2 separate regions of the Homo sapiens genome follow, and region 2 is linked to region 1. A link means that fine-mapping ties the variant in region 1 to the plasma level of a protein whose gene starts in the linked region. Region 1 holds a variant in brackets. A gene starts in the other region. All regions are shown on their forward strands.

Region 1 (5,375 bases):
CTTGAGCCCAGGAGGCCAAGCCTGCAGTGAGCCATGATGCACCACTGTACTCTAGCTTGGGCAACACAGTGAGACCCTGTCTGAAAAAAAAAAAAAAAATCAACCTGAGAGGATGGATATAAGAGATGCTGATGCCCCCACTCCATCCCAGAACCACTTAATCAGAATATCTGGGGTGGGGCATTTTATAAGCTACCCAGGTGTTGCCAGTGTATAACCAGGATTGGGGATATCTGGTCCAGGTGATACAGGAGGTTCCTTTTGGCTTGAGCTTGTTTGATTTCTAGGAAGTTCTTGGGGTATAGAGTTCACAGATGCTTCCAACACTGGGGCCACCATCCTCCTCCCTGCTGAGAATGATAAATTCCTGCCCAACCGTGGAGCCTATGATCTCAACTCTGGCTGTGCACTAGAATTTCCTAGGAAGCTTTTAAAAACCTTCCATGACTCAACCCCACCCAAAGCAAGTTAATACAATCTTTGCGGATGGTTCAGCCCTAGTTTGAAAAAGCTCCCCAGGTGATTCTAATGTGCAAAGTGGCGAACCACTGCTTTGAGAACAGCCAATGAGCCAAGAAAACAGACAGCCCTCCGCCTGGCCCCTTCCTTTTCCTCCTCAGAATGCTCATAGTCTGATGTGGGTTGTCGACTTCCTTACCCTGGACAGTGTGCTCTGAGTGAGGCACATGTTTAATGGCTAAGATCATGGACTCTGAAGCCAGGTGGGTTTCAGTTCCAACCCTATCATCTTATTAGCTGTGTAACTTAGGAAAAATCATGTAACCTTTCTAAGCTTCAGTTTCCCTATATGTAAAATGGGGACAGTATCCACCTCATGGAGCTGTGGGGATTGAATGGGTTCACGCACAGAAAGTCCACAGAACAAGGCTTGGTCCATGGTGAGTAGCAGCTATAATTTGAGAGAGGGTGTGCGTCTAGTTCATGTCCAGACCCCAATGTTAGAGTCTGATAGCTCCAACAATGATCTGGATTTAAGATTGGATTTAACAGGAACCTATGTGTAAAAGATAGATAGGCTCATGACCCATATTTCTAGATATCCTGCCTGACCTTATTTCCCATAAAGTTTGTTTGCTAATCCTGCAGTTATTAATCTTGGTTGTGGATCAGAATCACTGGGAGAACCTTTGAAAATGTAGATTACCAGCCCAATCCCCTCCCACTTCCCCATCCCAATCAAAATTCTTATTCAGCAGGGACGTGGGATTTGGACACGCTCCTCAAGTAACTTTAATGTTCAGCCAGGGCTGAGAAACACGGCATTCAATATATAACTTGGTATGAGCCTGTTGGTTCACCTTTGTCCACACATTCATGAATCGGAGGGAAGACCTTTGTTAGTCTGGGACTGTGGATTGTTGATTCAGAAAATATAACTTTACCAGATTATTTTCTATGCTGGGAAGTTTTCCATGGAGGCATTTATACTTTTTTGCCTTGCGGTAGCTTGAAAACTGTATTTTTTGGCAATTTCTATCAAGAGGCAGAGCCTGTTTCCTTCTTCTTGACCCTGTGCTGGTCTCGTGAGTTGCTCTGACCAGCAGGTTCTGTGGCTTTCAACTTTTTGGAAGGCTCTCCTGAGACCACTATGTAAGCGAAGCATTTAGCAGACTGGAGGATGAGAGACCATGTGGAGGAGAGCCAAGGTGACCAGCCAATAGCTAGCACTGGAGTCATGAGTGAGGCCATCTTTCACTTTCTGACCAAAGTCACTTGCACTGACCACCCAGCAAAGTACAGCCATGTGAGTGAGACCAGCCAAAATCAGCAGAAAAACTGTCTGGCCAACCAGCAGAATTGTGAGAAATAAGAAATAGTCATTTTAAGCGAGTATGTTTGGGTTTGTTACATAGTAATAGATACCAGAAATAGACCTTATCCACCCCTTTCAATTCCTGATCTGTATCAGCAGGAAAGGTAGCCAGAATAAGGGGTAAAATGGATGAAATGGAAAACACTAACTCTCTCAACCCCCTAGGGGTTGAACCTGTGTCCCAGCTTAGCCTAAGAAGCTACATAGCCCCAGATGCCCATGTGTGGATAACTGAGGCCAAGGTGATGCAGACCTCACCTGCCTGTTGGTCTTTGGAAGCCTCATTTTGTAGGTGACCCGAGGCTCCAACTGTCCTCAGCATCTTCTGTTTGCATTTGTGACAATATCCGTTCTGTGGCCCTTGGGTCTTGGGAAAACATGGCGCAATCATAAATGAGTTAAATGCTATCTGATCATAAGCCAGAGGGCCTGTTTTCATTTTCAAAACTCCGTGTGTCAGTGGCTGTAATGCAATGTCCAGCAATGTCTTGAGCAAGTGACCGGCAGGGGACAGAGGATGCTGTTTACTCAAGATAGCCCCATCACGCAAAAGCAGCTTGCCTAACCGGGTTTGTAAGCGATTGTTACGAGACCACCGTTGCAACAGGGATTGCCCTGGGTGATGGTCCCAGGAAGGGGCTGGTCCCCTCAGGCCAGATTTGGGGCTATCTCCCTCTTTCTGGAGCCCTCTGGGACCCTGGGCCTCTGGCAAAGAGCAGAGAAAAAGCATTGTTGGGAAATCCCACTCAGATGTGGAGTTGTCCTCCTAAGGAAGGGTGCCCTGGGGAGAAGGGCTTCATGCTACCCTGAGAGGAGACAGCCTCCTGTGTCAGAGGAGGCTGGAGGGGTGGCTAGGGACCTGCAGAGGCGGAGGATGGTGTGGTATGGTTGCTGAGCAAGAACATGGTGACTCGGGGTTTTGAAAGGCTTGGTCTGGGTAATGGTTCTGAGTTTGGGAGTGGTCATTGTTTCTCCAGCACCAAAATTATGGTGGGTGGGTGATCACATGCATATGGCTGACCCCTATGGGTATTTTCCTGAAGGTCAAACTATTAAATCCTTTATCCTTTCACCCCTTCCCTCTTGGCGAAGATCTGAGTTACAACCACCGTCACCACCACCACCACCACCA[CCACCAT/C]CACCATCACCATCATCACCACCACCATATCCACCTCTTTATCTGAACAGCTTCTTAAGATTTAAAAGCTCTTTCACATGGTTTCTCAATTAATCCTCACAACAACTCCAAGAGATAAGCATCACGACACCCATTTTATACCTGGTGAAATCGAGACTCAGAGACGTTAAATGTCTGACGCAAGACTCTTGGTCAGTGTGTCCCATAGAAATATAAAGTGGGCCAGAAATGAGAGCGGCATACATAATTTGACATTTTCTGGTAGTCATAATTAAAAAGTAAAATTAATTTCAATAATATATTTTAACCTAATAGATCAAAATTGTTATCATTTCAATATGCAATCAATGTAAAAATTATTGAACAATTTTACGTACTTTTTCATATAAAGTCTTTGAAGTCTGGGGTATATTTTGTACTTATAGTACATCTCAATCTGGACTAGTCAATTTTAAGTGCTCAGCAGCCATAGGTGGCTAGTGGCTGCTGTGTTGGAAGACACAATTCTAGATTTTTTTTTTATTATTATACTTTTAAGTTCTAGGGTACATGTGCACAAGGTGCAGGTTTGTTACTTATGTATACATGTGCCATGTTGGTGTGCTGCACCCATTAACTCATCATTTACATTAGGTATATCTCCTAATGCTATCCCTCCCCCCTCCCCCCACCCCACGACATGCCCTGGTGTGTAATGTTCCCCACCCTGTGTCCAAGTGTTCTCATTGTTCAGTTCCCACCTATGAGTGAGAACATGTGGTGTTTGGTTTTCTGTCCTTGTGATAGTTTGCTCAGAATGATGGTTTCCAGCTTCATCCATGTCCCTACAAAGGACATGAACTCATCCTTTTTTATGGCTGCATAGTATTCCATGGTGTATATGTGCCACATTTTCTTAATCCAGTCTATCATTGATGGACATTTGGGTTGGTTCCAAGTCTTTGCTATTGTGAATAGTGCCTCAATAAACATACATGTGCATGTGTCTTTATAGTAGCATGATTTATAATCCTTTGGGTATATACCCAGTAATGGGATCGCTGGGTCAAATGGTATTTCTAGTTCTAGATCCTTGAGGAATCACCACACTGTCTTCCACAATGGCTGAACTAGTTTACACTCCCACCAACGGTGTAAAAGCATTCCTACACAATTCTAGATATTTTTGTCCTTCCTCAAAGCTTCTCTGCTCTTCCATAATATGCATCATATTTTCTCCATTTCTAAAAGGGGGTGTTTGGGCCAAGGAGTTTCCAAGGTCTTTTTCAGTTCTAAGGTTTTCTGATTCCAGAGCAAAGCCAGAATTCTGCCCAGGCTCCGCTTAGCCCCATGACACAGAGGGTCCCAGACATATGGAGAAAGAACTGTGAAAACGTCTTCACACTAGAAGTTTGTGTTTCTTTTCCTATGGTCTACAGGGGCAAACAGAGACAGATACACAGACATGGACAGGAGGACTCCTAGGCTCCCAGATACAGTTGCATGACCCACAGGAACAAAGACACAGACACAGCGCCCAGGGGAGTGTTCTGAGCATGTTCTTTGTGTTCTTGCATGTGTAACCCTGATGTTGAGGGGAGTCGTCCTGCCCCTTAAGGGCCAGATGAAGTTGCCACAGACACCCCAAACCCCAACTCCAATCCATCTCCTCCATTTGTTTCTTTTATATGTAGATATGCACGTGTGTGTGTGCACACAAGTCACCCTCTATGTGTGGATATTGGGTCACTGCAGAAGAAGTGTTTCTGGTCCGGGCACGGTGGCTCACGCCTGCAATCCCAGTACTTTGAGAGGCCCAGGTGGGTGGGTCACGAGGTCAGGAGATCGAGACCATCCTGGCTAACACGGTGAAACCCGTCTCTACTAAAAATACAAAAAATTAGCCGGGCACGGTGGTGGGCGCCTGTAGTCCCAGCTACTCGGGAGGCTGAGGCAGAAGAATGGTGTGGACCTGGGAGGCAGAGCTTGCAGTGAACTGAGATAGCACCATTGTACTCCAGCTCAGGCGACAGAGTGAGACTCCGTCTCAAAGAAGAAAAAAAAAAAAAAAAGTGTTTCTGACCATGGGCTGTTGTTAAGCAAAGTTTGACTGTCCCAGCTCAAGAGACCTCATGGCCTCTGGCCAGCCACCTCTGTGACTGTCTCCTCAGCCACTTTGATACTGCCTCCATTTCTCCAACTGTCAAATGATGTTTTTGTTCCTCACAGCCAATCTCGCAAATCCTGCATTTCTCTCTCTCTCTCTTTTTTTTTTTTTTTTTTGAGATGGAGTCTCGCCATGTCACCCAGGCAGGAGTGCAGTGGCGCAATCTTGGCTCACTGCGGCCTCTGCCTCCTGGGTTCAAGCGACTCTCCTGCCTCAGCCTCCCAAGTAGCTGGGATTACACGTGCCTGCCACTATGC
Region 2 (5,375 bases), not on the chromosome of region 1:
TCAAGTGCGTCAGGTGACGCGCAAGCGCCTCACGTGACCATAAGGGGGCGTGGCTCTGAGCGGTGCCCGGCTTCCGGGTGGCTGCGCGGAAGCGCGGTGCAGGCGTGGGCTGGCCCTGCGGCGCCTGCGCGCTAAAAAGAGGAAGTTTGAGGCCGGCCGCTTGGTGGCGCCTGTGGCCGCAGGGATTTGACTGGGCCTTCTCTAGCTTTCCCCGGTTTGCTGCACTTGACGCTGCAGGGCGGGCGGGGTAAAGAAGGGAGCGAGCCCTTCTCAAGCTTGGAAAGTTTCCAGACTGCTGGGCCAGCCTCCTCCCCAGAGGGAAACTGAGGTCCGATTGAGGTAGGAGAATAGGGTCTGGAGGCGGGGAACTTGAGGCCAATACGTGCTGAATTCTGAAGCTGAATCAAGGGAAAACACCAAGGTCTGGGGGCAGGGAACCGGAGGCCAACTAAGGCGAGCTTACTAAAGCTAAACCAAAAAGAAAAACCCCATCTCCCCATGTCCAAGTAACAAAGGATCAAAGGCCACTGTCCCCACAACCCTCCCCCTTCCACCACGTCTCAGTTGAAAGGGAGAGTGCCTTGGATTGGCTGCGGGCCAAGCACGGGCCATCCCTTCATCTGCATAGGGCGCCAATTCACCTTAGCCCCATTTATGCCTTGTGTTCCATTATTGGAACGCTAAGCATATGGGAGTTATTTATATCCTACTGCTCAAGGTCATGGCCAAGGTCTGATTGCAAAAATTCAAAAAGATTGCAACCTCAGGCATAAATGGATTAATTAGCCATGGACCAAACCCTTCATCCAGATAAGGGGTAACGGACAGGGACCGCAAAAGGAGTACTTAAAACCCGGAAAACTTTGTAACTGAGCCCCTTCAGCCTCTTGCTCAGGCCCACTCCCACCCTGCGTAGTGCTTTCTCGCTTTAACAAATCCCAGCTGTCTGCTTCCTTCCTGTGTGTCATTCGTTTGTTACTTTCTGGGTTTTGTTCAATTCTTTGTTCGAAACGCTAAGGACCTGAACAACGCACACTCCTGGCCTTCCCTCTGGTAACAGGATGAGGGGCAGGCTTTGCGTGGAAGTAGCAGCAAGCCCTGGAGCCTAAGGCTTATTTGTTAGCCAGGAGTGATAGCCCCTGTGCCACGCTGCGTCCTGCGTTCCCCGCACTTGCTGTACAAGATTTTCGAAAGCTGGAGTGCGGCTCTTCTCTATTTTTCCCAGGGGCACCAGGACCCCTAAAAGCGCCCGTGTATGTGCCTCCTATGATAGGGTAGCCCAGGCCCTGGGATAAGAGTATGTGTGGTTTCTTGGCTTGGTGACACTCCCACCCCCTCCATGAACCCTCCCTCCTTTGACGGCCACGTTTGAAATAACCACAGCCTTGGGGTTGGTCCCATCCTTTATTCGAGTTTCCTTGCCCCTACCCTAGCCCCGACCCTGACGTTGGCCAGCTAGGTGCGGCTGCAGGGATTCATGGCAGTACCCAGCTTGCGGCAGTAGCAGAAGGCATTGAAGAAGCGGCAGTAGCACGTGGCACATGGGTCACAGCAAGGCACCTGCTGTCCCAGGCAGGACTCATGCAGCCTTACGCAGCGACGTGAGGAGCGGGGCTCGCGGTCCTGCAGGTCTAGTACCTGCAGGGGTGGGGAACCAGCACAGGCCTCTAAAGACAGATCCAGGGATCTTACCTGTCCCAACCTGTGCAGGATGGCAGTGGAGCATGGGAAGGGGTGGTCGGTAGTGTCGTCGCTGGTGAGGGAGTTTGGAGCTGGGGAGAGGAGCTAATACCCAATGCCCCCTCCCAAGGGCCACCACCTTACCCTTTTCCCTGAGCAGTTACCTCTGCCAAGGCCTGAGCCTCCTGCAACAGATCCTCTTCTGCCTGTTCTGCAGTTGTCTTCTTCAGTGGGGCCCGCAGGCCCAGGCCTGGGGCAGAGGATGTGAGGGCAGGAACCCCCATGCACAAAGCACCCACCTCCCAGGGGAGGGTTTGGGAAGGGAGAAAGAGGGTTTATGCCAGGGGAGACTATTTGTGGCCAGAGGGTATTCAGGCCCCGCCCAGTCCCACCCTTGCTCACACTGACCTGGGAGCTCTGGGAGCAGGGCCTGGTCAGGCCTTCTGATGCCCTCCATGGGGGCCAAGCCCATCTGGGCTCCTCGCGTGGCAGGCAGTGCCAGCAGCAGGGCACAGCTCAGCACCGCTGCGGTCAGCATGGCCTGGCTCAGCAGGAAGATGTACCACTTAGTCCCTCCTTATCCTTGGAGTCCCCTCTAGGTGCCCAGATAGAGACCCCACAGAGAGGAGGAGTCCCTGCCCAACCTGAGGACTCACCTCTGCCTCCGGGATTCTTGCCTAGAGAGTTCCCGGCCACCCCGTGCCCTTGGCTTATATGGCAGGGCCTAATGAAGGGCCACACGTGACTGATCCCTGCAGCCAGGCCGTGAAGGACCCTTCCTGGAGGGTGGGGGCACAGTTCAGGCCCTCACTCCCTGAACCTGAGCCTTTTGTTCTACAAGAGGAGTGCCTATCTCCAATTTGGGGTGAGGTTTCCAGGAGCCGATTAAAATTTGGGAGCAAGAGAGGGTGCCCAGGGTCCACAAATTTCCACAGGACAGGGACCTAGGAGCTGAGCAGGGCTAGAACCATTAGCAATAACAAGGCAGGCGGCCCTGAAAGCTTAATTTAATTTGTGGCCCCAGAGATGCTTACTCAACCCCTATGTGGCATGTTGTTTCCTGTGCTTCCAAGAATTCGGGTCAAGGACATTGGAGCGGGTGATGGGCCAATGGCCACTGTTGGGCAGGGGTAGGTGCAGAACCAGAACCTGGGTTTCTTTGGAGGGAAAGGGGAAGGAAAAGCCCACCTAACCAATCCTAGGCCCTCCTGACTACATTTCTGGTCCTCCCCTCCCTTTCTCCCTCCAGGTTTCTCCAAGACCGCCCACTCCTGCTCCTGTCCCCAAACCCCTTTCTGCCTAGGGTTCCTGGAAGCCAAGGAAACAGAACGAACTGTTCCCTGGGTGGGCGAGCCACTGCAGAGTACAAAGCTTTCAGGCCGCCTGCCTCATTAGCACTAATGGCTGCTCCCTTCCGCCCTGTGTCGTCAGGACTGTCTATGCCTGGTCTCATCAGCACAAGGCTGGGGTAAGGACTGCCCTTTTGTGGAGATGGCAGGACATACAGGACCCTGCTGCCCCTGCCTTCCCTCACCCCACTGCAGAGCTGTTTATCACACACGTGTCCATCTGGGAAAGGAATGCAGGCTGAATCAGCTTTGAGAGGATCGCAAGGCCCCAGTGCACAAACTGGGTTGGCACAAGGCAGTGGAAAAAAGATGAAGGGGGCCAGGTATGGTGGCTCACACCTGTAATTCCAGCATTTTGAGAGGCCAAGGTGGGAGGATCACAAGGCCAGGGGTTTAAGACCAGCCTGGGTATCATGGTGAGACCCCGTTGCTACAAAAAATAAAAAAATAGCTGGGTGTAGTGGTGCATGCCTGTAGTAGAGGCTGAGGTGGGAGGATGGCTTGAGCACAGGGATTCAAGAGTGCAGTGAGCTATGACTGCATCACCACACTCCAGGCTGAGCGACAGAGCAAGATCCTGTCTCAAAAAGAAAAGAAGATAAAGGGTGGCCAGGCACGGTGGCTCACGCCTGTAATCCCAGCATTTTGGGAGGCCAAGGTGGGCGGATCACTGGAGGTCAGGAGTTCAAACCAGCTTGGCCAATATGGTGAAACCCTATCTCTACTAAAAATACAAAAGTTATTCAGGCATGGTGGCACATGCCTGTAATCCCACCTACCCGGGAGGCTGAGGCAGGAGAATCACTTGTAACACGGGAGGCAGAGACTGCAGTGAGCAGAGATCGCACCACTGCACTCCAACCTGGGTGACAGAGTGAGACTCCATCTTAAAAAAAAAATGCTATTTAAAATGAAATGAAGCAATCCATACTCCCAACATTTATATATACTGGGACATCCAAGAAATTAAAATCACACCTCATTATGTCTTTTTCTTTGAGTCAGGGTCTCACTCTGTCACCCAGGCTGGGCCTGGTCAGCACCCATGCTATGGAGAGCTCTTCATGGTCTGGTGTGGACAGAGTGGGAGTGGAAGATCTCCTCCCACACAGGTGCTCAGTGTCTTACCTCACCTACGGGCAGCAGCTGTCTTCACCTGAGTGTGTGCACACAGGTGTATCAGCCCCATGGGCAGTGATGGACGAGGGCTGAGGCACTCACAGGGCAGCCCATGCCCCGGTCAGGTCCAGTGGGGGAGATATCAAGAAAACCCAGCGCCAAAATGCAATGAGCTGTGATCGCGCTACTGCACTCCAGCCTGGGCGACAAAGCAAGTTGCCGTCTCAAAAAACAAAAACAAAACTAAACAAAAAAAAAAAAACGGCCAGGTGTAGTGATTCACACCTTCTTGAGCCCAGGAGTGGCAACATAGTGAGACTCTGTCTCTACCAAAAAAAAAAAATTTAATTAGCTGAATGTGGTGATGCACACCTGTAGTCCCAGCTACTCAGGAGACAGGGAGGAGGATAGCTTCGGCCCAGGAGATTGAGGCTGCAGTGAGCCATGGTGGTGGTGGCTCACGCCTATAATCCCAGCACTTTGGGAGGCTGAGGCAGGCAGATCACTTGAGCCTAGGAATTCGAGGCCAGCCTGGGCAACATGGCGAAACCCAGTCCCCATTAAAAAAAAAAAAAAAAAAGGCCAGGTGCGGTGGCTCACGCCTGTAATCCCAGCACTTTGGGAGGCCGAGGTGGGCAGATCACAAGGTCAGGAGATGGAGACTATCCTGCCTAGCACAGCAAAACCCCATCTCTACTAAAAATACAAAAAAAAAAAAAATTTAGCCGGGCGTCATAGCGGGCACCTGTAATCACAGCTACTTGGGAGGCTGAGGCAGGAGAATGGTGTGAACCCAGGAGGCAGAGCTTGCGGTGAGCCGAGATCGCGCCACTGCACTCCAGCCTGGGTGACTGAGCGAGACTCTCTCAAAAAAAAAAAAAAAAGTTTCACAGCCGGATGCAGTGGCTCACGCCTGTAATCCCAGCATTTTGGGAGGCCAAGGTGGGCAGATCATGAGGTCAGGAGTTCAAGACCAGCCTGGCCAACATGGTGAAGCCCCATCTCTACTAAAAATACAAAAATTAGCTGGGCATGGTGGCACGCACCTATGATCCTAGATACTTGGGAGGCTGAGGCAGGAGATTTACTTGAACTGGGACCCAGGAGGCGGAGGTTGCAGTTAGCTGAGATCGTGCCACTGCACTCCAGCCTGGTAACACTCCAGCCTGGTAACAGAGTGAGACTCCATCTCAAAAAAAAAAAAGTTTCACTATGTGGGTAATTTTA

Alleles and levels. Positions count from the first base shown, and alleles are read on the strand shown. Strength reflects both the effect of a copy and how common the allele is.
In carriers of allele CCACCAT in region 1, the plasma level of the protein whose gene starts at base 2,367 in region 2 tends to be higher than with C alone (weak association).

What was found. PIP is the chance, under the fine-mapping model, that this variant and not a neighbour inherited with it causes the effect. The UK Biobank Pharma Proteomics Project read protein levels with antibody pairs (Olink). The fine-mapping took linkage between variants from a reference panel, not from the people measured, so its PIPs are less certain.
Region 2: AGRP starts here. The variant in region 1 is fine-mapped to the plasma level of the AGRP protein (UK Biobank, PIP 0.99).

The regions. Positions count from the first base shown.
Region 1 is chr8:125,489,175-125,494,549 of GRCh38, forward strand. The region is part of intron 2 of TRIB1AL (TRIB1 associated lncRNA); the gene reads left to right. Among named protein-coding and RNA genes, the nearest start is that of TRIB1AL, 25 kb to the left of the region's middle. The variant CCACCAT/C (reference allele first, on the strand shown) is at 2,967.
Region 2 is chr16:67,481,181-67,486,555 of GRCh38, forward strand. AGRP (agouti related neuropeptide) reads right to left here and starts at 2,367. Exons shown (of 4, transcript NM_001138.2): 1 at 2,337-2,367; 2 at 2,089-2,221; 3 at 1,845-1,930; 4 at 1,391-1,638. The coding sequence starts at 2,218. The coding sequence ends at 1,456. It overlaps ATP6V0D1-DT (ATP6V0D1 divergent transcript), which reads left to right and starts at 214. Exons shown (of 4, transcript NR_184227.1): 1 at 214-339; 2 at 2,930-3,148. RefSeq lists a silencer at 88-257.